Linked DNA regions of Homo sapiens. The protein of the gene in region 5 purifies or fractionates together with the protein of the main gene of each other region. This does not show direct contact. Each region holds a gene or a part of one and is shown on either strand. Other genes may lie near its edges.

What was found.
Region 1: the proteins of CDK19 (region 5) and AZGP1 purify together in Homo sapiens (affinity purification with mass spectrometry; one large-scale study listed by BioGRID and IntAct). This does not show direct contact.
Region 2: the proteins of CDK19 (region 5) and MYCBPAP purify together in Homo sapiens (affinity purification with mass spectrometry; one large-scale study listed by BioGRID and IntAct). This does not show direct contact.
Region 3: the proteins of CDK19 (region 5) and MED25 purify together in Homo sapiens (affinity purification with mass spectrometry; 2 studies listed by BioGRID and IntAct, with this or other methods). This does not show direct contact.
Region 4: the proteins of CDK19 (region 5) and GPN1 fractionate together in Homo sapiens (co-fractionation; one large-scale study listed by BioGRID). This does not show direct contact.
Region 6: the proteins of CDK19 (region 5) and CTCF fractionate together in Homo sapiens (co-fractionation; one large-scale study listed by BioGRID). This does not show direct contact.
Region 7: the proteins of CDK19 (region 5) and MED13L purify together in Homo sapiens (affinity purification with mass spectrometry; 7 studies listed by BioGRID and IntAct, with this or other methods). This does not show direct contact.

Annotation. Positions count from the first base shown.
Region 1 is NC_000007.14:99,969,631-99,973,031, reverse strand, and holds part of AZGP1 (zinc-alpha-2-glycoprotein precursor), read left to right. Parts: intron 1-1,025; coding exon 1,026-1,286; intron 1,287-3,401. UniProt on the Homo sapiens protein: Stimulates lipid degradation in adipocytes and causes the extensive fat losses associated with some advanced cancers. May bind polyunsaturated fatty acids.
Region 2 is NC_000017.11:50,514,939-50,518,438, forward strand, and holds part of MYCBPAP (MYCBP-associated protein), read left to right. Parts: intron 1-1,631; coding exon 1,632-1,759; intron 1,760-2,354; coding exon 2,355-2,514; coding exon of another isoform or gene 2,515-2,559; intron 2,560-2,656; coding exon 2,657-2,760; intron 2,761-3,500. UniProt on the Homo sapiens protein: May play a role in spermatogenesis. May be involved in synaptic processes.
Region 3 is NC_000019.10:49,831,789-49,835,288, forward strand, and holds part of MED25 (mediator of RNA polymerase II transcription subunit 25), read left to right. Parts: intron 1-147; coding exon 148-233; exon of another isoform or gene 234-311; coding exon 312-369; intron 370-519; coding exon 520-627; intron 628-3,197; coding exon 3,198-3,389; intron 3,390-3,500. UniProt on the Homo sapiens protein: Component of the Mediator complex, a coactivator involved in the regulated transcription of nearly all RNA polymerase II-dependent genes.
Region 4 is NC_000002.12:27,646,050-27,649,030, reverse strand, and holds part of GPN1 (GPN-loop GTPase 1), read right to left. Parts: intron 2,166-2,981; exon of another isoform or gene 2,038-2,165; intron 1,196-2,037; coding exon 1,088-1,195; intron 1-1,087. UniProt on the Homo sapiens protein: Small GTPase required for proper nuclear import of RNA polymerase II (RNAPII). May act at an RNAP assembly step prior to nuclear import.
Region 5 is NC_000006.12:110,805,470-110,808,969, forward strand, and holds part of CDK19 (cyclin-dependent kinase 19), read right to left. Parts: intron 1-3,500.
Region 6 is NC_000016.10:67,611,026-67,614,525, forward strand, and holds part of CTCF (transcriptional repressor CTCF), read left to right. Parts: coding exon 1-588; intron 589-925; coding exon 926-1,096; intron 1,097-3,500.
Region 7 is NC_000012.12:115,980,694-115,984,193, reverse strand, and holds part of MED13L (mediator of RNA polymerase II transcription subunit 13-like), read left to right. Parts: coding exon 1-14; intron 15-653; coding exon 654-1,077; intron 1,078-1,590; coding exon 1,591-1,810; intron 1,811-3,255; coding exon 3,256-3,444; intron 3,445-3,500. UniProt on the Homo sapiens protein: Component of the Mediator complex, a coactivator involved in the regulated transcription of nearly all RNA polymerase II-dependent genes.

The DNA.
Region 1 (3,401 bases), on a different chromosome or scaffold from region 5:
CATTCTCCTGCCTCAGCCTCCTGAGTAGCTGGGACTACAGGCACCCGCCACCATGCTTGGCTAATTTTTTGAATTCTTAGTAGAGACGGGGTTTCACCATGTTAGCCAGGATGGTCTCGATCTCCTGACCTCGTGATCCACCCGCCTCGGCCCCCTAAAGTGCTGGGATTACAGGCGTGAGCCACTGAGCCCGGACGAAATGTTAATTTGTTTTTTTTGAGACGGAGTCTCACTCTGTCATCCAAGCTGGAGTGCAGTGGCATGATCTTGGCTTGTTGCAACCTCTGCCTCTCTGGTTCAAGTGATTTTCCTGCCTCAGCCTCCAGCATGACTGGGATTACAGGCCCGCACCACCATGCCCAGCTAATTTTTGTATTTTTTAATAGAGATGGGGTTTCACCATGTTGGCCAGGCTGGTCTTCAACTCCTGATCTCAAGTAATCTGCCTGCCTTGGCCTCCCAAAGTCCTGGGATTACAGGCATGAGCCACGGAGCCCAGCCTAGAAATGTTAATTTCTAACGCATGTCAGATTCCATGCACACTGGGCAAGGTTCCATTCCTCCATGGGGTGACTCAGGGATCCAGGCCAATTGCATATTGAGACTCTTTCATATTATCCTGTGGCCTTCAAAGTCGTCACCTCTAGGGATGAGAAACAAAAGGGACAAGCCAGCTGGTAGGGTCTTGGACAAGAAGAAAGACATCACTTCTGCTCACATTCTCTTTTGACAAAACTCAGTCACATGGTCCCAATATATCTTCGAGGTGGCTGAGTAATGTTATCTTCCTATGTGTCAAGCAGAGGAAATAATGTAGTGAAGACACAGGATGGTCTCTGAAATATCATCTCAGGCATGAAAGTAGAGCATATTCACTTGAGTGAGCCTCCAGTGGTGTGAAGTTGATGGCAGGAGAAAGAGCTGGGGAAGAAAAGGCCAGTGGCAGGTCTCCCCTCCTAGCCCTATGCAGCCCCACAGTGGGACCCTTGCATGGACCTCAACCATCAGAATCTTTTCTTTTGCAGGTCGTTACTCTCTGACCTATATCTACACTGGGCTGTCCAAGCATGTTGAAGACGTCCCCGCGTTTCAGGCCCTTGGCTCACTCAATGACCTCCAGTTCTTTAGATACAACAGTAAAGACAGGAAGTCTCAGCCCATGGGACTCTGGAGACAGGTGGAAGGAATGGAGGATTGGAAGCAGGACAGCCAACTTCAGAAGGCCAGGGAGGACATCTTTATGGAGACCCTGAAAGACATCGTGGAGTATTACAACGACAGTAACGGTCAGTGAATAACAGACCACAGGGGTGGAAGGTCTAACCCAAGAGGCAGCCCCCCCAGTGTGAGTGGCAAGGGATCAGCAGGATGGAAATAGTCCCAATCCCAGGGGAAGAACAGGAGACACAGCAGAAACACAGACATGTCCACATCCCACCCACCCCACAGCACAGGTGCTCCCCGCTTCCCCATCAATTGCCCCATCCTCATCCCAGGCCTCAGGTCACACAGGAAGTGATGGCAGAGTCACTTCCTATCCAGGCACCTATGACCTCTCACCTCCACACCCCACCCATCGGAGGCTGATACCCCCGTGAGAAGGCATCAGACTCACCCCTGTCCAGGGAGGTTGCCTGGAGAGTGAGCCACTCTCAAAGTCACTCAGACCTGGGCTCACCTGGTGGTTCTGCCAGTCCTAGCTGTTGACAGTGAAACGTTCCCAAAATATCTGGTTGAAATCTGCAAACATTGGAGCACTGAGACCTACCTCCAAACAAGTCTGTAATATTTAACTATGTCTGTTCTATGAAGGATGTCACAGTCTGTCCTGATCTCCCTTGCAGCTCCATCACCTAGCACAGGGTACAGCCAATATTGGCTCAATTGAAATTTGTGGAATCAACAGAGAAAAGCACCCAGCACACACCGTAGCCCATGCTGGGGGCTCAGGAAGTGCTGGATTCAAAACTGTGGGCTGTTAGAGTTCCTTGGAGCCCTAAAGTTCCTCCTTACCATACGATGCAGACCCAGGAAGGGCCACCTGCGCTATGGTCAGAGGAGCTGGTGGCAGAGCCCGTGCAGAGATGGTCCCTGTGCCCCCGGCCCAGTGCTCTTTCTCCTAAACCACACTGCCAGCCCCAAGGCAGCCAACCTCAGGTCTGGTGAACTGCTGGTGTTAAATTATCATAGAGTGGGTGTCAAAAGATGGGCTACTAAGTACAAAAATGCCCAAGGTGCTACATGGGATCTGAAGATTTTCAAAAGGAGGCAAGAAAGAGATAGGCAGATGTTTCAAGGATGTGGGGTGGGGGAGGTCTTGGTAAGGAAAATGGCCCAGGCTGTGTGTCAGCAATAGGAGAGGAGGGGGCACAGGTGATCAGAAAAGACACTGGGGGAAGCATTGATGGACAGGAATAGAAATGGCAAAGTGGATAATTAAGAGGAAGGAGGATGAGGAGATGAACACAGGGTATTAGAAAATAATAGAAGGCAGGGCTTGGTGGCTCACTCTTGTAATCCCAGCACTTTGGGAGGCTGAGGCAGGCAGATCACCTAAGGTCAGGAGTTCGAGACCAGCCCGGCCAACATGGTGAAACCCTGTCTCTACTAATAATACAAAAATAGCCTGGCATGGTGGCACACGTCTGTGGTCCCAGCTACTCAGGAGGCTGAGGCAGGAGAATTGCTTGAACCCAGGAGGCAGAGGTTACAGTGAGCCAAAATCCTACCATTGCACTACAGCCTGGGTGACAAGAGTGAAACGTTGTCTAAAAACAAAAAACAAAAAACAAAAAAAGGAAATAATAGTAGCTGACATTTACTGAGCACTTACTTTGTGCCAGGCCCATCTATGAGCATATATAATGCTCAGAATAGCCCCCTAAAACAGTGCTCTTGGCATTGCCATTTCAGAGGTGAGGAAATAGAGGCACAGGGAGTTGAGTGGCTCCAGTTCAGGCAACACACCAGGTGGGGGTGGGGGGCTGGGGAGAGACCTGGGACGTGAGCCCAGACAGCTTGAGAGCTTTCAGAGTCTATGCCAACAGCACCAACCAGTGCTGGGTAAACACCTGCTTTTATCATCAGAACAAAGAGGCTGTGTCCCCTGCCCTATGAGGTCCATTTCTGAGAGTTGTGGCTAATGGGCAAGAAGGTTGGGGCTTTAGAGATTTGGGATAAAGATATCAAACACCAGAAAGGTAGAAAGAAGTGATCAGATTAGGGTTACTTAGGTGATGATATGAACTCTTCCTAGAACTGAGAGAAAAAGAGAGCCTTCCTTTACTCATATGAAATCACAAATAATTTCTATCCAATTTGGAAGTACACTTTGGTGTAGTTGTGACAGCTTCCTCAGGACTCAGCATAAATTCAAACAAATAATTGTCCTTAGAAGAGAT
Region 2 (3,500 bases), on a different chromosome or scaffold from region 5:
TTGCCCATGGGGTAAGCCTTCACATGGCTCACTGAGCTCTTCACGATATGGCGGCTGCTGCTGTCTCTGGGCTCTGCCTCTTCCCTCCCACCTCACCACACTCCAGCTATTCAAAAACACATGCTTTGAGTTCCAGGGATGTGCTCCATTCTTTGCCACTATGCCTCTTTATGTTATTTTCTTTGGAATGCCTGTTCCCCAGGGCCCTTTCCTTTCTCCAGCTTCTTCAGCTCTATTTAAACATCCCTTCCTTAGGAAGCCCTCCCTGACTCCCCCACCTCCCACGCCCGCCGACTCAGGGCTGGTTGTTCCCCCCCACCATGTTCCTGTAGTTACTCTGGCTCAGTCTGTTTCACGGTCTTGTTTCCCATTGGGCATGTGCTCTTTAAAGACAAGCTCTGGCATGTATCCCTAGAACCTAGCACAGTGCCTGGCATGTAGAAGCTGCTTAAACAATCTTTATTAAATGAATATGCAATAAATGGCCAGTGGTGAATGCTCTGCTTCCCCCACAGAGATTCTGCACTTTAACCAGTGTCTTGTGAAACCCTGTGCCTTCACCCAGAAGCATGGATCAGTGCCAGCACTGGAGGAGGCTGGCAAAACATCTAGTTCAGTTGTCCCAAACCACTGTGCATCAGAATCACCTAGGGAGTTGAAAAAAGTACAGCTCCCTAGGCCCTGGCTCCATGCAGTAGTCAGGAAGCTGTATTCATAAAACTCCCCCAAAGATTCTGAGGCAGACATTGGACTAATAACTTGGGAACCACTGATTTAGTCCAACTGACTCTTTCTACACATGGAAAGCCTGAGGCCTAGAGAGGTTAAGTGATGCGTACCCAAGACTGTCCAGCTTATAAATAGCATAGCCTGAAATGGAACATCTTTTTTGTATATTAAAAATAATCTTTTTTGTACAGATGGAGTCTCAACTATGTTGCCCAGGCTAGTCTTGAACTCCTGGGCCCAAGCAATCCTCCTGCCTTGGCTTCTCAAAGTGTTGGGATTACAAGCTTGCACCACGGCACCCGGAATGAAACATCTTTTTGTTTTGTTTTGTTTTGTTTTTGAGACAGAGTCTCACTCTGTTGCCCAGGTTAGAGTGCAGTCACACGATCTCAGCTCACTGCAACCTCTACCTCCCGGGCTCAAGTGATTCTCCTGCCTCAGCCGCCCGAGTAGCTGGGACTGCAGGCATGGGCCACCACACCTGGCTAATTTTTGTATTTTTAGTAGGGACGGGGTTTCACCATGTTGGCCAGGTTGGTCTTGAACTCCTGGCCTCAAGTGATCCTCCTGTGTCAGCCTCCTAAAGTGCTGGGATTACAGGCATGAGCCACCACACCTGGCCTGAAACGAAACATCTTCTGATCTCAATTCTGGCTACAGAAGTCTTAGTCACTGTGGTGAGCCAGGGGCTGTGGGTAGGGGGACCCTCCAGAGAGAACTCCCATTGCCCCAGCAAAGTGCTACCCAGGCCACCTTGGCAGCCTCTGCTATCTATCCAGCTGGTCAGCTCTGCCCCCCACCATGGAGTCTAGTATATATTTTTACTTTTATTTTTGTATGTATATATTGATATATACAGAAGGAGCTCTTTAAGGACTTAATAACTTTCTGCTTCTCTTCAGAAAAGAAGCGGGCAAAGGGACCTGAACAACCCACACCCACAATTCAGGAAGAGCCTGAACCTGTTAGCAATGTCCTACAAGGAGATGACATTCTTGCCTTGGCCATTAAGAAGGAAGACTTGAAGGAGGTGAGGATGAAGCCCAAGCTTCCCTTACCATAGAAACGTTTCCCTGCCGGCAGCCTGAGTGGTCTAGAACACCAGCCATGTCCCTACTCATGGGGAGTGTCTAACTCCATGGAAAAACCCACTGAACACAGATTCTTTTCACTTTACCACCTTAAGGAATTCACTGTGTTGTCTGTTTTAACATTTCTGAGATTCATATAGAACCACAGGGGAAATGAGATGATGAGGTATCTTGCTTCCCATAGAGGTAGGTGCCATCATTCCCATTTCACAGACCGGAGGATGAGTTTAAGGAGCCAAGGTACAGCTCTGGGTAAAGCTGCTAAACCCTAACCCCATGCTTTACCTGGGAGAGTCAGCCATCTCTCACCCAAACTGTCTGGAGGCATAAGATGTTCTTTTTTTTCCCTCCAGGATATTACTAAGTCACATATCTGTTACACAGGCATTTCCTTGACAGAACATATGGACAGAGCTGAAGAAACAGATCTGTCAGCCTTCAGGAACTCCACCCAGAACTAGAACAGAAGAGATGGGTGGTGCTCTTCCTCCTGCCACCACAGGTGGAATTCTCCTTTGTTTTATTTCTTTTTAGCAACACATTCCTCGCCTTACTGAAAAGGAAGATAAACGTGTCATCACCCAGAAATTTATCATCCGTAAACTCAAACCCATGGATCCTAGGAGGAAGGTCTGCCACCTTGTAGCACGTCCTGCGAATCCTGATGAAGCCACAAAGCCTCTGGACTACTCCGGTACACCCAGTCTCAGCCCTGGCTTCACTGTCTTTCAACTCATGGGTCAGCCTCAAGAGAAACCCAGTCTCCATCAGAAAGTTGCCCTCTTGAAAGTTGTCCACCCACAGCTTCTTTCCCCTTTCTTCTTTTATCCTCCCAGGTCCCGGTGACAGCTTCGATGGCAGTGACCAGATCCTGCCCCACCACATCTTGGGGAGTCTCCAGGATTTTAAGAGAATTGCACTTGCTCGAGGGAACACCCAGGTTTGTTTGCACAGAACTACCCGGATGAGAGCAGTCACTGAAGTCATTTTGGTCTCCCACCTGACACAGTCAAGCAGGGCTGGGGTTAAAGAGACAGTCTAGTCTGTAGGTTTTGAGTCTGAGTTGATAAGGGACCCTCTCCCAGAATAGTTGGACACTTCAGGCAGCTGAAGCTGGCTTCAGTGAAGTCAGGGATTTACTGTAAGGATTCCAGAGATTGCCTCATGGAACCCAAAGGCGGGAGTACCTGGGTCTGGGTAGACTGCACCCAAAAAGGCATCAGGACTCAGGGCCCACATGCCTCATTTCCCTCTGCTCTGTGCACTGTCTTGATTTTCCCTTCTCTGGAGACTGGCCTGCCCTCCTCAGTCCACGTGGTGGAGGAAGGTGGCTTCCCACTGCTTCCTGGGCCACGGGAAGATTCTGTATCTTTCCAGCCTTCCCATCATGCAGTGCTTCACCTGTCTCTTCCCCTTGCTTCCCTGGTTCCAGGCTGACTCTGATTGGTCAGGCGCTAAGGGGCCTGGGGCCCTGTAAGAATGCTTCCATTTACACATGGGTGAAGGTGGCAATCAACATCAGTTGTGAGGACAAATACACTAGATGTTGACCCCAATCTTGAAACAGAAGTTCCCTTTGTGGGGGAGAGTGGACTGACAGCTGCTTTCAGGGCCCCCTGGTTCTGGGATTTATTTTCTGTCACTGGCTACTCTGGAGTCCTGAAGAGGAGGGACTCTCAG
Region 3 (3,500 bases), on a different chromosome or scaffold from region 5:
TTGCTGGTCTGGAGGAGGGGCCTGGGGCTCATGGGACTTAAACTGGGGAACATCCTGAGCTTTGGGGCTACCAGGGTAGGACATGAGGGCTCAAGGGGACTGAGGCTTATGGCCCTTTTTACTGACATGCTCTTTTTTCCCCCTCAGAAACCCAAACCTGCCTCAGTGGATGCCAACACCAAGCTGACGCGGTCACTGCCCTGCCAGGTCTACGTGAATCATGGCGAGAACCTGTAGGTGACAGTCAGGGGCGGGGTGTGGTGGGGCTGGGGCTGGCCCCCTCCTCACACCTCTCCTGGCATCGCCCCCAGGAAGACGGAGCAGTGGCCCCAGAAGCTGATCATGCAGCTCATCCCCCAGCAGCTGCTGGTGAGTGGCGGTGGAGGGCCAGCCCTGCTGCCGGGCAGTCCTCACCCTGCTGTCTCTTTCCTGTTCCCTGCCCCACCCCCACTCCCTGCCTCATGTCCCCGCCTCACTTGCCCACACCAGCATGCCAGCCGACTTCTGTGTCTCCCGCAGACCACCCTGGGCCCTTTGTTCCGGAACTCAAGGATGGTCCAGTTCCATTTCACCAACAAGGACCTGGAGTCTCTCAAAGGCCTCTACCGCATCATGGGCAACGGCTTCGTGAGTCCAGGGCATGGGGGGCCGAGGGGTGTTGACTCTTGTCCTGCTTTCTGCTGACCTTTGACGGGAATCCCAGAGTGCCTGGGCCCACGGAAGCCGTTTTTGATGGTTGGGTGCACTTCATGCCCTTAGGTTCCTCGCCTTTCTTCTAGAGCCGTGACTTTTATTATAATCATCGTATGCACCAGATTTGAGGGATATTCCACATTAAAAATGTGAGCTGGATGTGACAGGATCAGTTAGGAGGAAGCTGTTGATTCTGGCATGGCTTTATGGGATGTGTTCATTTCCTGTGGCTGTGGTAACACATTACCACAAGCAGAGGGGCTTAAAACAACAGAAACGTGTTCTATCCCAGTTCTGGAGGCCAGAAGCCCAAGGTCAGGGTGTCAGCAGGGCCACGCTCTCTCTAGAGGCTGGAGGGAAGGCCTCTTCGTTGCCTCTTCCGGCCGGTAACCCCAGGCTTCAGGTGGCATCGCTCCAGGGTCTTCCTCCATCCCGCAGCTGTCTTCCCTCTGTGTGTGTCTCCACATGGCATTCTCTCTGTATCTTTGTGTCTGTGCTTATAAGGACATCAGTAATTTTGGATTAGGCCCCATTTTCCTGACCTCATCTTACTACAATTGCAAAGACCCTCTTTCCAGATAGAGTCACCTTCACAGGTGCTGGGGACTGGAACCTCAGCTTAGCTTTCTGGTTTTGTTTTTTGAGACAGAGTTTCACTGTTGTCAGCCAGGCTGGAGTGCAGTGGTGCAATCTTGGCTCACAGCAACTTCCGTCTCCTGGGTTCAAGCGATTCTCCTGCCTCAGCCTCCCAAGTAGCTGGGATTACAGGCATGTGCCACTATGCCCAGCTAATTTCTGTATTTTTTAGTAGAGACAGGGTTTCACCATGTTGGCCAGGTTGGTCTCGAACTTCTGACCTCAAGTGATCTGCCTGCCTCGGCCTCCCAAAGTGCTAGGATTACCGGTGTGAGCCACCGCGCCCAGCCTCAGCATAGCTTTCTGGGAGTCACAGTTCACACTTTGTAACTCGGGGAAGGAGCAGATCAGTTACTTCCGTGCACCAGGCACTCCTGCAGGAAAGAGAACCTTAGGGGGATCACCTCACGAGACCCTCACAGAACCTTGTGAAGAAGGCATTCCTGAGAGTTAGTACTTCCGGCTGCAAATCACGTAGTTTCCCAAACACATAGATAATTGGGGGCACTCGGAAAAAATGTTCTCTTATGATTCTGTGGGTCACCTGGGCTCAGTGGGCCATCTCGCTTGGCGACTCTCACGGGGTTGCCATCAGATGGCAGCTGAGACTCTGGTCATCTGAAACCTTTACTGGGCTGGATGTTCAAAACAGCTCCTCACACAGCCCTGGCTGTTGGCTGGGGCTTGGCTAGGACCGGCCATCCCAGTGTCTGCACATGGCCTGTCCACGTGGCCACACTGTGGCAGCTGGGTTCTGAGAGGGCAGGCGTTGTAGGAGCAGGCATTTATATTTTGCACAGGACAGGACATCTAGAGGGGGCCAGCTATTGGGATTGGTTTCATAGGTCTGTGACATCAGGGACAGGGCCCTGTGGTTCTCTTGGCCTCTCCTTTATAGTCACAAGGTAGCTCTCATGGCTCCACGCATCCTGTGTGCTTTCATGAAGGAGGGGAAGGGGGCTGTGTGTTTCCCTTTCTTCAAGACAGCAGAAACTTTCTCAGATTCCAGAGCAGGCATTCCTTTCACCTCCTATCCCGGACCTAGGCCACTGGGCAGCCCCTAGTTGATGGGAGGCTGCTGGGAGCAGGTATCCGTGACTGTCTGGGGCTGGGACATGTTACAGCCCCAGACAGCATTGGGAATGCAGGGGAGGAGGACACTTGGATATGGAATAGGCAGCTAGCAGGGTCTGTCTCAGGCAGGAAACCGAGGCTCAGAGAAGTCAATTCACTTGGCCAAGGTCAGCCTCGCCTCCCTCAGGAGCCCCTGCCCTGAATGCTCCATGTGTTACCCCCCTGATGACCAGTGATGTTTCCTGGGTGCTTCCTGTGGGCTGAGCCTCAGGCAGGGCTCTTGCTGTGGATCAGACATCGCATAGTCACAGCGACCCTGTGATGTGGGAGCACTCCCCGTGGTGTACACTGGCCGGTGCTGAGGGCTGGAGGATCTCTTGGATACCCGGGGTCCGACCCACCGTTGATCACAGGCCTGTGGGTACCACGCTGTGCATCTAGGCCGCTCTCCCGGCCGTGACCCTCAGCCGCCCTCTGAGGAGGCCGCCGTGGCATTTTATGCCCAAGAAACTGGGTCCATGAGGAGCAGGTGGTGGCTGAAGGTTGAAGAGCTGGGCTCCAGCACTTTCTCTCCGCTTTCCCTCTCAGTGGGCAGCTGGAACCCTAGCTTGCCCTGAGCGCCTCAGTTTCTGTCTCCAGAGCAACCCATAGCACACCTGTTCTCCTTAACCTTCTATAGCAGAAACCTCACCTCACCTTGCCTGTGGGGCCTCTAGAGCCTTCTGGAATGGGGAGGGGGTCAGGGCTGCCTCTTTCAGGGCCTGAATGGTTCTGAAGAGCTGTTGTCCACCCAGGCGGGCTGCGTGCACTTCCCCCACACGGCGCCCTGTGAGGTGCGCGTGCTCATGCTCCTGTACTCGTCCAAGAAGAAGATCTTCATGGGCCTCATCCCCTACGACCAGAGCGGCTTCGTCAACGGCATCCGGCAGGTCATCACCAACCACAAGCAGGTCCAGCAGCAGAAGCTGGAGCAGCAGCAGCGAGGAGTGAGTGTTGACAGTCCCCAAACCAGCACTCCGACCCCCTCCTGCCCGGGCCCCACATGGCCCCCTGGGGTCTCCAGGACCAAGATGCCCACCCTTCTCCCAATATGTGGT
Region 4 (2,981 bases), on a different chromosome or scaffold from region 5:
CTCAGGTGATCCGCCCACCTTGGCTCTCAAAGTGCTGGGATTACAGACGTGAGCCACCGTGCCCGGCCTATGGTTGTTTCAAGAATCAGATTCTGGCAGGGCATGGTGGCTCATGCCTGTAATCCCAGCACTTTGGGAGGCCGAGATGGGCGGATCACTTGAGGCCAGGAGTTCGAGACCAGCCTGGCCAACATGGCGAAACCCCGTCTCTACTAAAAATATAAAAAATTAACCAGCTGTGATGGCATGTGCCTGTGGTCCCAGCTACTCTGGAGGCTGAAGTGGGAGAATCACTTGAACCCGGGAGGCAGCGGTTGCAGTCAGCTGAGATCGTGCCACTGCACTCCAGCCTGGGCAATGAAGCAAAACTCTGTCTCAAAAAAATAATAGTAACAATTAGATTCTGCGCACAGTCCATAAAACTATGCCAAGTGGAATTTGGGTTTCCAGAGCCATTCTATCCTTACTGTTTTAGTCCATATAACCTTATGTATTATTTGTGTTTTTTGTTTTTGAGATGGTCTTACTCTGTCACCCAGCCTGGAGTTCTGTGGCACAGTCATAGCTCATAATAGCCTCAAACTTCTGGGCTCAAGCAACCCACCCACCTCAGCCTCCCAAACAGCTTGAACTACAGGTGTGAGTAACCATGCCCAGCTATTTTTTTCTTTTTTGTAGAGAGTGGGACTAACTATGTTGCCCAGGCTTGTCCAGAACTCCTGGCCTCAAGCAATCCTCCTGACTTGGCCTCCCAAAGCAGTGGGATTACAGGCATGAGCCACCACACCCAGCCCTTACATATTCTTAAAACAAAATACTAATAACAACAAACAAAAGTCCTGGATCCCTCAAACCAAGTTAGGACCTAAAGATAAGAAGACACAAGACCAACGAAAGGCCTGTAATCAGCTCAGTATTAACCATCCAGTAGGCAGGACAGGAACTCTCAATATAGGAAACTCTTTTCTGGTGCTGTATCCTTTATCCACTATTACTGGCTACACGCTTAAAGCAAGAAACTCCTGGGCAAACAATGTGAGGATAAGCAGATGCTCTGTTGCCACGGGCCACCTCAGCCACCTCTCACCTCTGTGGTCAATGTCATCAGTATCGCTGTCTGCTTCCTCATCCTCTTCATCCAAGGTTCCTCGAGTCAGGATCAAATCAGAAGGGTGCAGCACAGGAGATAAGCTGTCTACAGTGAAAACACCTATCAGTGATATGCCTCCTCAAAAAGGTGATCTTGAATCACTAAGTAACTATGATCATAAACTGGCAGGATGAAAGTGCTCATGATACATATAAACGCAGGATCTTACCTCTTCTAAATGTATTGTTAATACCACTTAACATTTCTATAATAGCTTAGTTCACAAAGTGCTTTCATAAGGCAAATAGCCCTAGGAGTCCCATTTTTTTAAGCTGAGGGAAATAATTTTCAAGAAGCTTGTCTTACTAGTAGCATCATTCTTTTTTACTGGCTCACAGCTTGGAAGGGGTGATGGTTTTTCCTATGAAAGCTAACAACATTTGAGCAGATCCAGTGTGCTGGTGAGTCACAGTGAAAGTGTGGAGTGCTAAGGAAGCCTCCTGGTGGAAATGTAAGTTCAGAGAAGGTCTGCAGAAAATACAGGGTGAAATGTTATCAAGGAGCCAGGGTATTATTTAAGAAGAGGAGGGAGGGGAAAAATAGAAAATCAAATACACTAATAGAAGTAAAATTCCCTATTCAGAAAAACTAGTGAGGGCTGAGCTCCAGTAATCAGAGAGAAGTCTAATCAAGTCACTACTGCCATGGGAGGACATAGTCACTCTCTCTTCAGGAGCCTATGAGGCTTGCGAGAGCTCAGCTAGGGAATAAGGGTGGCCAGAGACAGCAACATCAACTGGCACAAATCTCAAGGGGCCTGTGGGCCTGAAAAAGGAGGATGACAGGACATGCTGACAGTAAATGCTTCATTCTGTGCCTAACAATTATGCAACTATACTTGTGACTTTCCTCAAATGATTTACTTAAACTCTCCCAACCTTCAACAGGTTAGCTGACTACAGCAGACCCTTTGCAGCAGTAGTTTTAACATTGACTTCACATATTCAGAAGTGATTCTAAAGGACTGTGGCACATAGAAATGTATTTTGCTGAGCTGTACAACAGGATGGCACAAGTGAGTACACTTAACTGGTAAACCCAGTCCGTTACTAGCTTTGCTGTTCTCTACTAGATATAGAGCAATAACTTTCATGAACAGAAGCATCACTCCTTTAAGAAAGATGTCCCAGAAAAAAAAAATGCTAGTGTTGCTGATGAGAAGAAAAAATAAATGTACAATTTATTACAATAAATAAATAAATGGAGCTTTTCTTTTAAGTACAGTCAATTTGGTTGCAGGATTCCACTAAGCTGCAATAGACTTGCATCTGAATCTTGAGGGCAGTCCCTCAATATACAGGGGTGGGGGTGGAAGGTGGGCTGTAAATGAAAACTAACCTAAAAACCCCTGCAGAGCCAATGATAAAACTAAAAAAAAATTTTTAATTCAGTAAAGTAGCAGGATAAAAGATGAATATACAGAAATCAAAAGCCTTCATACATACAAACATAAACCAGTTATAAGATGTAACGGTCCAGAAAATCCCATTTTCAACAGTAATGAAGAAGGTTAAATACTTAGAATAAATTTCAAGCTGGGGCTGGGCATGGTGGCTCATGCCTGTAATCCCAGCACTTTGGGAGGCTGAAATGGGCAGATCACCTGAGGTCAGGAGTTCAAGACCAGCCTGGCCAACATGGCAAAACCCTGTCTCTACTAAAAATGCAAAAATTAGCTGGGCGTGGTGGCATGTGCCTGTAGTCCCAGCTACACAGGAGGCTGAGGCACAACAATCGCTTGAACCCGGGAGGCGGAGGTTGCAGTGAGCCGAGATCGCGCCATTGCACTCCAGCCTAGGTGACAGAGCAAGACTCTGCCTCAAAAATAAAT
Region 5 (3,500 bases):
TAATTTTTCAAAACAAATAGATGTCCCTCAGTATACCTAAAGGGTTGGTTCTGGGACCCCTGCATATACCAAAACCCACATATACTCAGGTCCTGCAGTTGGCCCTGGAGAACCCACCTATACAAAAAGTTGGCCCTCATATACGCAGGTTTCACAAATCTGCGTGTAAGTGGACCCACACAGTTCAAACTCCTGCTGTTCAACAGTCAACTGTACACAATTTATAACACCACATATGAACTTATTTGTCTAGCATATTAAGTTCAAAAATGTAGGACACTATATTTTATATACTTTAAAAAATAAAAATACTTAATTCATCAACACTGACATAGATTGCATTAAAAACCTTTCCATGGATCTACTCTTCCTATGTAAAACTCAGAGACATGCCTTTTCCATGCTCCTAAAACAGTAGCCATGAGAAAGTAGCTTAAGCCCAGGAGGCAGAGGTACAGTGAGCCAAGATCGTGCCACTGCACCCCAGCCTGGATAACACTTCTCAAAAAAAAAAAAAAAAAGTAAGTAACTTGTACTTCCTTTAACAAATGATTTATAGCTCATTTTTATGTGTTAATTATCACTGTCAGCTGGGTGCAGTGGCTGACGCTTGTAATCCCAGCACTTTGGGAGGCCGAGGTGGGCAGATCACCTGAGGTCAAGAGTTTGAGACCAGCCCGGCCAACATGATGAAACCCCGTTTCTACTAAAAAATACAAAATTAGCTAGGCATGGTGGCGCATTCCTGTAATCCCAGCTACTTGGGAGGCTGAGGCAGGAGAATCGCTTAAACCCGGGAGGCAGAGGTTGCGGTGAGCCAAGATCGTGCCATCACACAACAGCCTGGGCAAGAAGAGCGAAACTCCATCTCAAAAAAAAAAAAAAATTATTATTGTCTTAACATTTCACTTCCTTATTCTTAGCCAACCCCCCCATCTCCAGTCTTCAGATATTTCTATCTTATACATCACCATATTAGTAAACCATTCCAAGCCATTACTTCCAAAGGTAAACAGCTTCTAGGACTTTAACTTACAGACACATTAATAGGTACAAAATGCTGTGCTTACTAGGATATTCACTTCAGTGTTAGTACTAGCAAGACTGGAGACAGCCAATGATGTAAGTCAATACAATGAGATACAACAAAACTATTAAGAGAAACAAGGCATCTCTGTATATAGATATGTCATAATGTTTAAGCAATGTTTAAGATTTAAAATATGGGCCAAGCACTGTGGCTCACGCCTGTAATCCCAGCACTTTGGGAGGCTGAGGCAGATGGATCACTTGAGGTCAGGAGTTCGAGACCAGCCTGGCCAACATGGTGAACACTGTCTCTACTAAAAATACAAAAAATTAGCCAGGTATAGTGGTATATGCCTGTGGTCCCCGCTACTCAGGAGGCTGAGGCAGGAAAATTGCTTGAACCTGGGAGGTGGTGGTTGCAGTGAGCCAAGATCTTCCCACTGCACTCCAGCCTGGGTGACAGAGAAAGACTCCGTCTCAATAAATAAATTAAATAAATAAAAATAAAAATAAAAATAGGGCCAAGCATGATGGCTTATGCCTGTAACCCCAGCACTTTGGGAGGTCAAGGTAGGAGGATTACTTGAGGCCAGGAGTTCAAGACCAGACTGAGAGACATAGCAAGACCTCATCTCTACAAATAATTTAAAAAAAAAAAAAAAAGCTGGGCATGGCCCACATCTGTAGTCCCAGTTACTCAGGAGGCTGAGGTGAAACAATCGCTTGAGCCCAAGAGACAGACTTGCTTGAGCCCAGGCAGCCAAAGCTGCAGTGAGCCATGATCTAAAAATAGAAAAGTGTGCAGCACACTAGCATGTCATATTTAATGACATCTTTAAGTTAACACACATGCACATACCCCAAAAGAAAATCCTCTTAAAGGACAACCAAGAATGACTGCCCCTAAAAAAGGGAAAGAATGGCTGGGAAAGGGATGACTTACGTTACACTGGTGGTTTTTTGTTATTTTTGTTTTATTGAAACAGAGTCTCACTCTGTCACCCAGGCTGGAGTGCAGTGGTGCAATATTAGCTCACTGCAGCTTCCACCTCCCAGGTTCAAGCAATTATTGTGCCTTAGCCTCCCGAGTAGCTGGGATTACAGGTGTGTACTACCACGCCCGGCTAATTTTTTGTATTTTTAGTAGAGACGGAGTTTTCGCTGTTGGCAAGGCTGGCCTTGATCTCCTTGCCTCAAGTGATCTGCCCACCTCGGCCTCCCCAAAGAGCTGGGATTATAGGCATAAGCCACCGCGCCCAGCCACATTGTATATTTTTACGCACATATACTATTTACAAACTTTTTTTTATAATACCTTTTTTTTTTTTTAAGAGAGTCTCGTTCTGCTGCCCATGCTGAAGTGCAATGGCATCATCATAGCTCACTATAGCCTCAAACTCCTGGGCTCAAGCAATCCTCCCACCTCATCCGGCCATAAAATACTTTTTTGAAAAAGTAGTTAAATATCCTTGATTCCATTCATAAATTGATAGTTCTTCAAGTATTGGTTTGCTTTATCAAGCTATTTCAGCCTTAATATTTCTCCTGTAACTTGAAAAAAGACATAACAGTTTTCCTATTTATCCACACCCTGATTTAAACATTTTTATTGAAAGGTCACTTGATGGATCAGAGAATTATTTGTTGCTAAGCCACTCATCCAAAGACTCTAAACCTACACAGTCCAATGTGATAGCTACTAATTAGTTTCTAATCACACTAACTACATTCCAGTAATCGATACCTATGTGTGGCGTGTGGCTTGTGGCTAGCATATTGGACAGCACAGATGCTAAACATTTTCAGATCACTGCAGAAAGTTCTATTGGACATCACTGCTCTACACCAGGAGTCAACAAACTATAGCCTGCAGACTAAATTCAGCCAACTGCTTATTTGTATAAATAAAGGTCTACTGGAACACAGCCATCCTTATCCATACTGGTTTACGTATTATCTGTCGATGCTTTGGCACTACAATAGAGTTGAGTAATTGCACCAGAGACAGTAAAGCCCAAAAGGCCTAAAATATTTAGTATCTGCCAGAAAAAGTTTGCTGATCACTGCTCTAGATTATCAAATTTCATTGAAAAAGAACACATTAATTTCCCTTAGGCCTCAAAAAGTTTTTGAAGGCTTGCATTACAAAAATGACAAACCAGTTAAACATAAACAGATGTCTACTTCATTTACTAAGTGTTAAAGATACTTAATTTTTTACCATAAACCCATAAAACCAAAATTTGTCCTAAAATGTATTTAAATACTGGTATTTTCTAAGCATCTCTATAAAATAGCTAGTAAAAGCACAGAAGACAGATTACTAGTCTAGCAATTCTAAAAGAGCTGGCCTAAGAGAAAATATTTATTTCTCAAAAATATGCCTATTTTCCTTAGCAATATCTAATATCTGTTCAAAGAAATGGGGCCAGGCGTGGTGGCTCACACTTGTAATCCCGGCACTTTGGGAG
Region 6 (3,500 bases), on a different chromosome or scaffold from region 5:
AGCTGGACCCCACCCTTCTTCAGATGAAGACTGAAGTAATGGAGGGCACAGTGGCTCCAGAAGCAGAGGCTGCTGTGGACGATACCCAGATTATAACTTTACAGGTTGTAAATATGGAGGAACAGCCCATAAACATAGGAGAACTTCAGCTTGTTCAAGTACCTGTTCCTGTGACTGTACCTGTTGCTACCACTTCAGTAGAAGAACTTCAGGGGGCTTATGAAAATGAAGTGTCTAAAGAGGGCCTTGCGGAAAGTGAACCCATGATATGCCACACCCTACCTTTGCCTGAAGGGTTTCAGGTGGTTAAAGTGGGGGCCAATGGAGAGGTGGAGACACTAGAACAAGGGGAACTTCCACCCCAGGAAGATCCTAGTTGGCAAAAAGACCCAGACTATCAGCCACCAGCCAAAAAAACAAAGAAAACCAAAAAGAGCAAACTGCGTTATACAGAGGAGGGCAAAGATGTAGATGTGTCTGTCTACGATTTTGAGGAAGAACAGCAGGAGGGTCTGCTATCAGAGGTTAATGCAGAGAAAGTGGTTGGTAATATGAAGCCTCCAAAGCCAACAAAAATTAAAAAGAAAGGTAAAACGAGTTTATCCATAGTGGTTTCATAAAACCATTTTGGGATAAGCATACAACACAGTGCATATGCAAGTTGTTTTATATTAACCGTATTTGTAAAAGGTCGTTATGTGGGTACCGTTCTTTAAAACCAGTCTAAAATAAGTTTTTTCCAGATTGAATGCTCTTTTTTTAATCCCAAAGAAGAAGGAAATGTATTAGTGACATGAGATAATTATGACTTATATTGGGTTTTGTTATTAAAAGCTAATCAAATATATTTGTAGAAATTTAAGATTAGGATTAATCTTAACACTTTGAAACTCTGCAGCAAGTAAGTGTTTTATTTTGCACATAGGTGTAAAGAAGACATTCCAGTGTGAGCTTTGCAGTTACACGTGTCCACGGCGTTCAAATTTGGATCGTCACATGAAAAGCCACACTGATGAGAGACCACACAAGTGCCATCTCTGTGGCAGGGCATTCAGAACAGTCACCCTCCTGAGGAATCACCTTAACACACACACAGGTGCTGGATAAGAATGTTGGGGGCTACAACAGCAAATGCTCAGACTTCGCTTTTTAGTATTCATTCAAGCTGACTCCAGCGGGAATTTAAAGGAAGTTTTTATTATTTCTTATGATGCCCTTTTTGTAATCATGATTTTATTGTAAGCACTTGGACTTAGTTATTATAGACAAATGTAAAGAAAATTTAATGAAAAATAACACCCTCTCTCTTAAAAAAAAGAAGTCTCAGGCAATAGATGCCTGGTACTATGAGGAAGAATGTTAGAAATAGAAGTGAAATCCCAGTGAAACCCTGTCTCTACTAAAAATACAAAAAATTAGCTGGGTGTGGTGGTGGGCGCCTGTAGTCCCAGCTACTCGGGAGGCTGAGGCAGGAGAATGGCGTGAACCCGGGAGGTGGAGCTTGCAGTTAGCCGAGATCCCACCACTGCACTCCAGCCTGGGCGACAGTGCGAGTCTCCGTCTAAAAAAAAAGAAAAGAAAAGAAATAGAAGTGAAATCCTACCTTTATTTAAAAAAAAAAAAGTGGCCGGGTACAGTGGCTCACGCCTGTAATCCTAACACTCTGGGAGGCTGAGGTGGGCAGATCACTTGAGATTAGAAGTTGGAGACCAGCCTGGCCAACGTGACAAAATCACATCCATCTGTACTAGAAATACATAAATTAGCCAGGTGTGGTGGCGGGTGCCTGTAATCCCAGCTACTCAGGAGGCTCAGGCAGGAGAATCGCTTGAAACCTGGGAGGCAGACACTGCAATGAGCTGAGATAGTGCTACTGCACTCCAGCCTGGGCGACAGAGTGAGACTCCATCTCAAAAACAAACCTTAACATTTTTTGTTTCTGGTTGTTTCACGTCAAGGAAGATAATTCATAATTTCAGAATGGAAAAGCTAAGGCACCATTCTGATAATTCAAACATTTATTTGAGCATCCTACTTACTTTAGTGTTCAGATATTCTGATATTAGCTTCATGTTGGCTGTGGCCAGGTTCCCTGAGGTCTCTAAAGTAGAGGGACTCTGTGCACTAAACCTCTCTTTAAGCTTTCCTGAGCTATTTGTTATCCCAGTGTAGGAAGTTGGTTGCAAGTCTTCTCACATGGTTTTTCATGCAGAATAACTTCATTTCATATGACAACTCTTGTTTTTGATTTTTAGGTTTTTAAAAATTTCTAATGACAACCCTTGTTTTAGATTTGTTGTGCTGGTTGTCAGATGACCATGATCAAGTGGGTGTTAATCATAAACAGTATGCTGCACATGGGCACATTCTTCACTAATGTGACTTACTTTTAAACATCTCCCTAATTTCTACTCAGACACTTGATAATATGTTTTATTTGATACTTTGAAGACACTAGGATGGGGCATATGACTAAATAAAAGTAACTGGGTAATCCCAGCACTTTGGAAATCCAATGGGGGGTAGATGACCTGAGGCCAGGAGTTCTAGACCAGCCCGGCCAACATGGCAAAACCGCCTCTGTACTGAAAATACAAAAAATCAGCTGGGTGTAGTGGCACACGCCTGTAAACCCAGCTACTTGGGTGGCTGAGGCAGGAGAATCACTTGAATGCGGGAGACAGAGGTTGCAGTAAGCCAAGATTGTGCCACCGTACTCCAACCTAAGTGACAGAGCAAGACTCTGCCTCACCAAAATAAATAAATAAATAAATAAATGGCCCCATAACAGGACTTCCCAAGATGGGTGTGCCTTGGTGTGGGCATTCTCTATCTGGTCTTCAGCTTTGAAAGTAAGAGGTACAGTCTATCTGGTTACTCAGCAGATTTGGCAAGACTGATTCATACCAACAAAACCCATAAGAGCAGATGCATACACCAAGAGTATCAGTTTATGGTGAGGAGTATACCTTTTCATGTTCCAGATGCAGTTGCATTGCATTCTAGGGGGCGCCTTTGCCTCTGTTACGATGCTGTAGCAGCCGGGCGCCGTAGCTCTCGCCTGTAATCCCATCACTTTGGGAGGCCGAGGTGGGTGGATCACCTGAGGTCAGGAGTTCAAGACCAGCCTGGCTAACATGACGAAACCTCGTCTCTACTAAAAATATAAAAATTAGCCGGGCGTGGTGACGCATGCCTGTAGTCCCAGCTACTCGGAAGGCTGAGGCAGGAGAATTGCTTAAATCCAGGAAGCAGAAATTGCAGTGAGTGGAGATCGCACCATTGCACTCCAGCCTGGGCGACAGAGTGAGACTCCATCTCAAAAAAAAAAAAAAAAAAAAAAGATGTTGTAGCAATTGAAAGCTAACTTGGTGAGGATGAGCCTTGATGGCTGGGCATGGTGGCTCACACCTGTAATCCCTGCACCTAGGGAGGCTGAGGCGGGTGGATCACTTGAGGTCAGGGGTTTGAGACCAGTCTGGCCAACATGATGAAACCTC
Region 7 (3,500 bases), on a different chromosome or scaffold from region 5:
CCGCCATCACCTAGGTAAATGGGAATTTATTTGGCAAAGTAGAATTGGAGAAGTAAAATAGCAAATCCGTCCCATCCCTTCTTTTATAGATGCAACATTATATTTCTTTTGTCTCAAGTAATGCTGTATTTGTTAAGGTCCAGTTTGGTGTTCTGGGCAGTTTAATGCTAATTTCTATATGGACATATATTTTTTAAAAACTATTCAAAGTTGCCTAATCATGTCTAATTACTGCACATTTTGAAAACTTAGCAGCATGACTTGGTATTAGCTGCTTAGTTTTAACCCATATTCTGAAGAGAATCTTAGAAGCTTGTAAACCTAGGAGCATAATGTCCCATGATGACTGTGGAATATATAGCTTCTCATTTTTTAGGGCAGGCACATGGAATCAGTCTGAAAGGAGACTATCACAAGTGATTGATTTTCTCTTTTCAAACAAGCCTCTACTGTAGAATTTATAAGTTGCTCCATGTGCATCTCCATGTTTGCAGAATACATAAGCATGACTGTGGAGATAGTATTTTGGGTATTGTAATCAGAGTATTGCAGCCTGAAAGCATAATGTTTTTACAAGTGACCATTCTAGATTCTGGTTCAGTCCGACACTGCAGAATATCACTAAAGTCACCTCTTTGCATGTATTCTTTCAGCACCTTATTTAGCCACTCTGCAGCTTGATAGCAGCCTATTGATACCACCTAAATACCAGACCCCACCAGCAGCAGCACAGGGACAAGCTACGCCAGGGAATGCTGGGCCCTTAGCTCCAAATGGATCAGCAGCTCCCCCAGCTGGCAGTGCATTTAATCCCACCTCGAATAGTAGTTCTACAAATCCTGCAGCAAGTAGTTCTGCATCTGGTTCCTCTGTGCCACCGGTCTCATCGTCTGCCTCTGCTCCTGGTATTAGCCAGATAAGCACTACCTCTTCTTCAGGATTCAGTGGTAGTGTTGGAGGGCAGAACCCCAGCACTGGGGGCATTTCTGCGGATAGAACGCAAGGGAACATAGGCTGTGGTGGAGACACTGACCCTGGGCAGAGCTCTTCTCAGCCCTCACAGGATGGACAAGAGAGGTATGTTATTCACTAATTGAGATGAGTGGCTTCAGCTCAGACCCTTTCTCTCTTCTTCTTCTGCACCTTTTCTCCCTTGACCTCATGATTCTGTGAATCCTATGAAGTGCTCTATTTCTCTTCTCAAAAGAAAGGGGCAATGGTCGATCTAAAGCTGCAGTGTTAAAAATTTGAGACTTCTTATAAATTATTATGAATTATAAACTTTATTATTAAACTTACTTACTATCAACTTAATTAGTAACAACTTTGTACAACATAACCACAGAAAAGAAAGGGGAGTTGAAAAAGATACCTCCCATTTTAGAGGAGTACATTGCCATTTTCCATCTGCCCTCGATGCTCTCTGGCTTGGTTTGCCTGTATTTTGGTAAGGTGATAAATGTTACTCTTACCTTTAATCTGTAAACATTCTTTAGGGAGCCTGTGTGCTCTAGAATTGAGCCCTTTTGTTTTTCATGTTCGTGTAATTTATATTTATTTTGTGCATCTCACAAGTGACTCTCTCTCCAGTGTTACAGAAAGGGAGAGAATAGGAATTCCCACGGAGCCTGACTCTGCAGACAGCCATGCCCACCCTCCAGCTGTTGTCATTTACATGGTGGACCCGTTCACGTATGCTGCAGAGGAGGACTCCACTTCTGGGAACTTTTGGCTGTTGAGCTTGATGCGCTGCTACACAGAAATGCTGGATAATTTACCTGAGCATATGAGAAATTCTTTCATTCTCCAGGTTACTGTTTGCAAGTTTATTATTTACTTTTGATGTTGTTATTTTTGTTGTTATGAAAATAAATACAGGCCTATGATTTTTCTTAAAAAATGGAAGTACAGGTTAATTATCCCCTAACCAAAATACTAGGAACCAGAGTGTTTTGGATTTCCGATTTTGGAATATTTGCATATATATAATGGGAGACCTTTGCAGTGGGCCCAAGTCTAAACATAAAATTTATTTATGTTTCATATACACCTTACACACATAACCTGAAGGTAATTTTATACAATATTTTTGGTCATGTTGTGCTTTATACAAAGTTTTGATTAAATTTTGACTGCAATACATCACATGAGGTCTGATAACGGAATTTTCCACTTGTGGCGTTTTATTGGCATTCCAAAAGTTTTGGGTTTTGGTGCATTTTGGATTTCAGATTTTTTGATTAGGGATATTCAACCTGTACATGAAAGTATAAAAGAAAAATAGTCATAATTCCGTCTTTTACATTCAACCACCATAACCATTTTGGTGTATTTCTAGCTTGTTTCTCTATTTTTGTTTACACAGTTGAGATCATACTTTTAATATAACTTATTTTCTACCTAATGTTATTCATTAACACATTTTCATATTATTTAAATTCTTACAAGCAACATTTTTAATGACTGCATATTTTCCATAGTCATTCCTATATCTCCACTTCTTTACTGTTATAAATAAAGCCATAGGACACGTTTATGTATAATCTTATTTTTCACATTTCAGGTCATTTTTAACATGGATTCTTAGATGCTGACAAATATTGCCAAATTCCATTCCAAAAGAGGTTACACTTATTTCCTTTCATCAGTGAATGAGTATGCTTATTTTCACTGCACCTTTGACAGCTTTATAGTGTAATGATTTTTTAAAAAATTCTATATAGATGAAAAACAATGCTTCGGATGTTTGGGTTTCGTTTTAATGTCACTTTAACTGAAGCTATCTTGTAAAATTAAAAGATTGAAATTAAAGTTATCAGAGTACATTGCTGATAGTTTTCCATTGTTTTGAAGTCTGTATCCTAAATGATTAGGTAATAATTCCAAAAAATGCCATACACACTGTGTAATTATAAAAAGAAATATAATAAAATTTTGGGGCCATGGTAATACCTGTAATAAATTGAGATCTTACCCCTAAAGTGGGAACATGGTAGTTTCTAAGTGACAGTATAACTTGACCAACATAATCGTACATCTTTTGAAATTGCTGGTGATAGAGAATTTTATGTCAGCGGAAGGAATTAGGATTTAATTATATTATGTGTGGCACAGATATATTTTAAGGCTGAGGTTACCTCTCCCCATTGTGGTAAGGAATTCATGCCGTTTCCTTTTTCAGCTTGCTTGTTAGTGTGTTAGATCTCAGTTTCTAGGTTTTTGGTTTTTGTTTTTTTTTTGTATTTGTGTCTTTAGATTGTGCCTTGCCAGTACATGCTGCAGACAATGAAGGATGAGCAAGTTTTCTACATTCAATACTTGAAGTCCATGGCATTTTCAGTGTACTGCCAGTGCAGGCGACCACTGCCTACACAGATCCACATTAAATCCCTCACGGGATTTGGGCCTGCAGCCAGCATTGAGATGACCCTCAAGAACCCTGAGGTAGGTATTGGCAGGACAGAAACTTAGAAAATTTATACTAAAATGCAAGCTAGAAG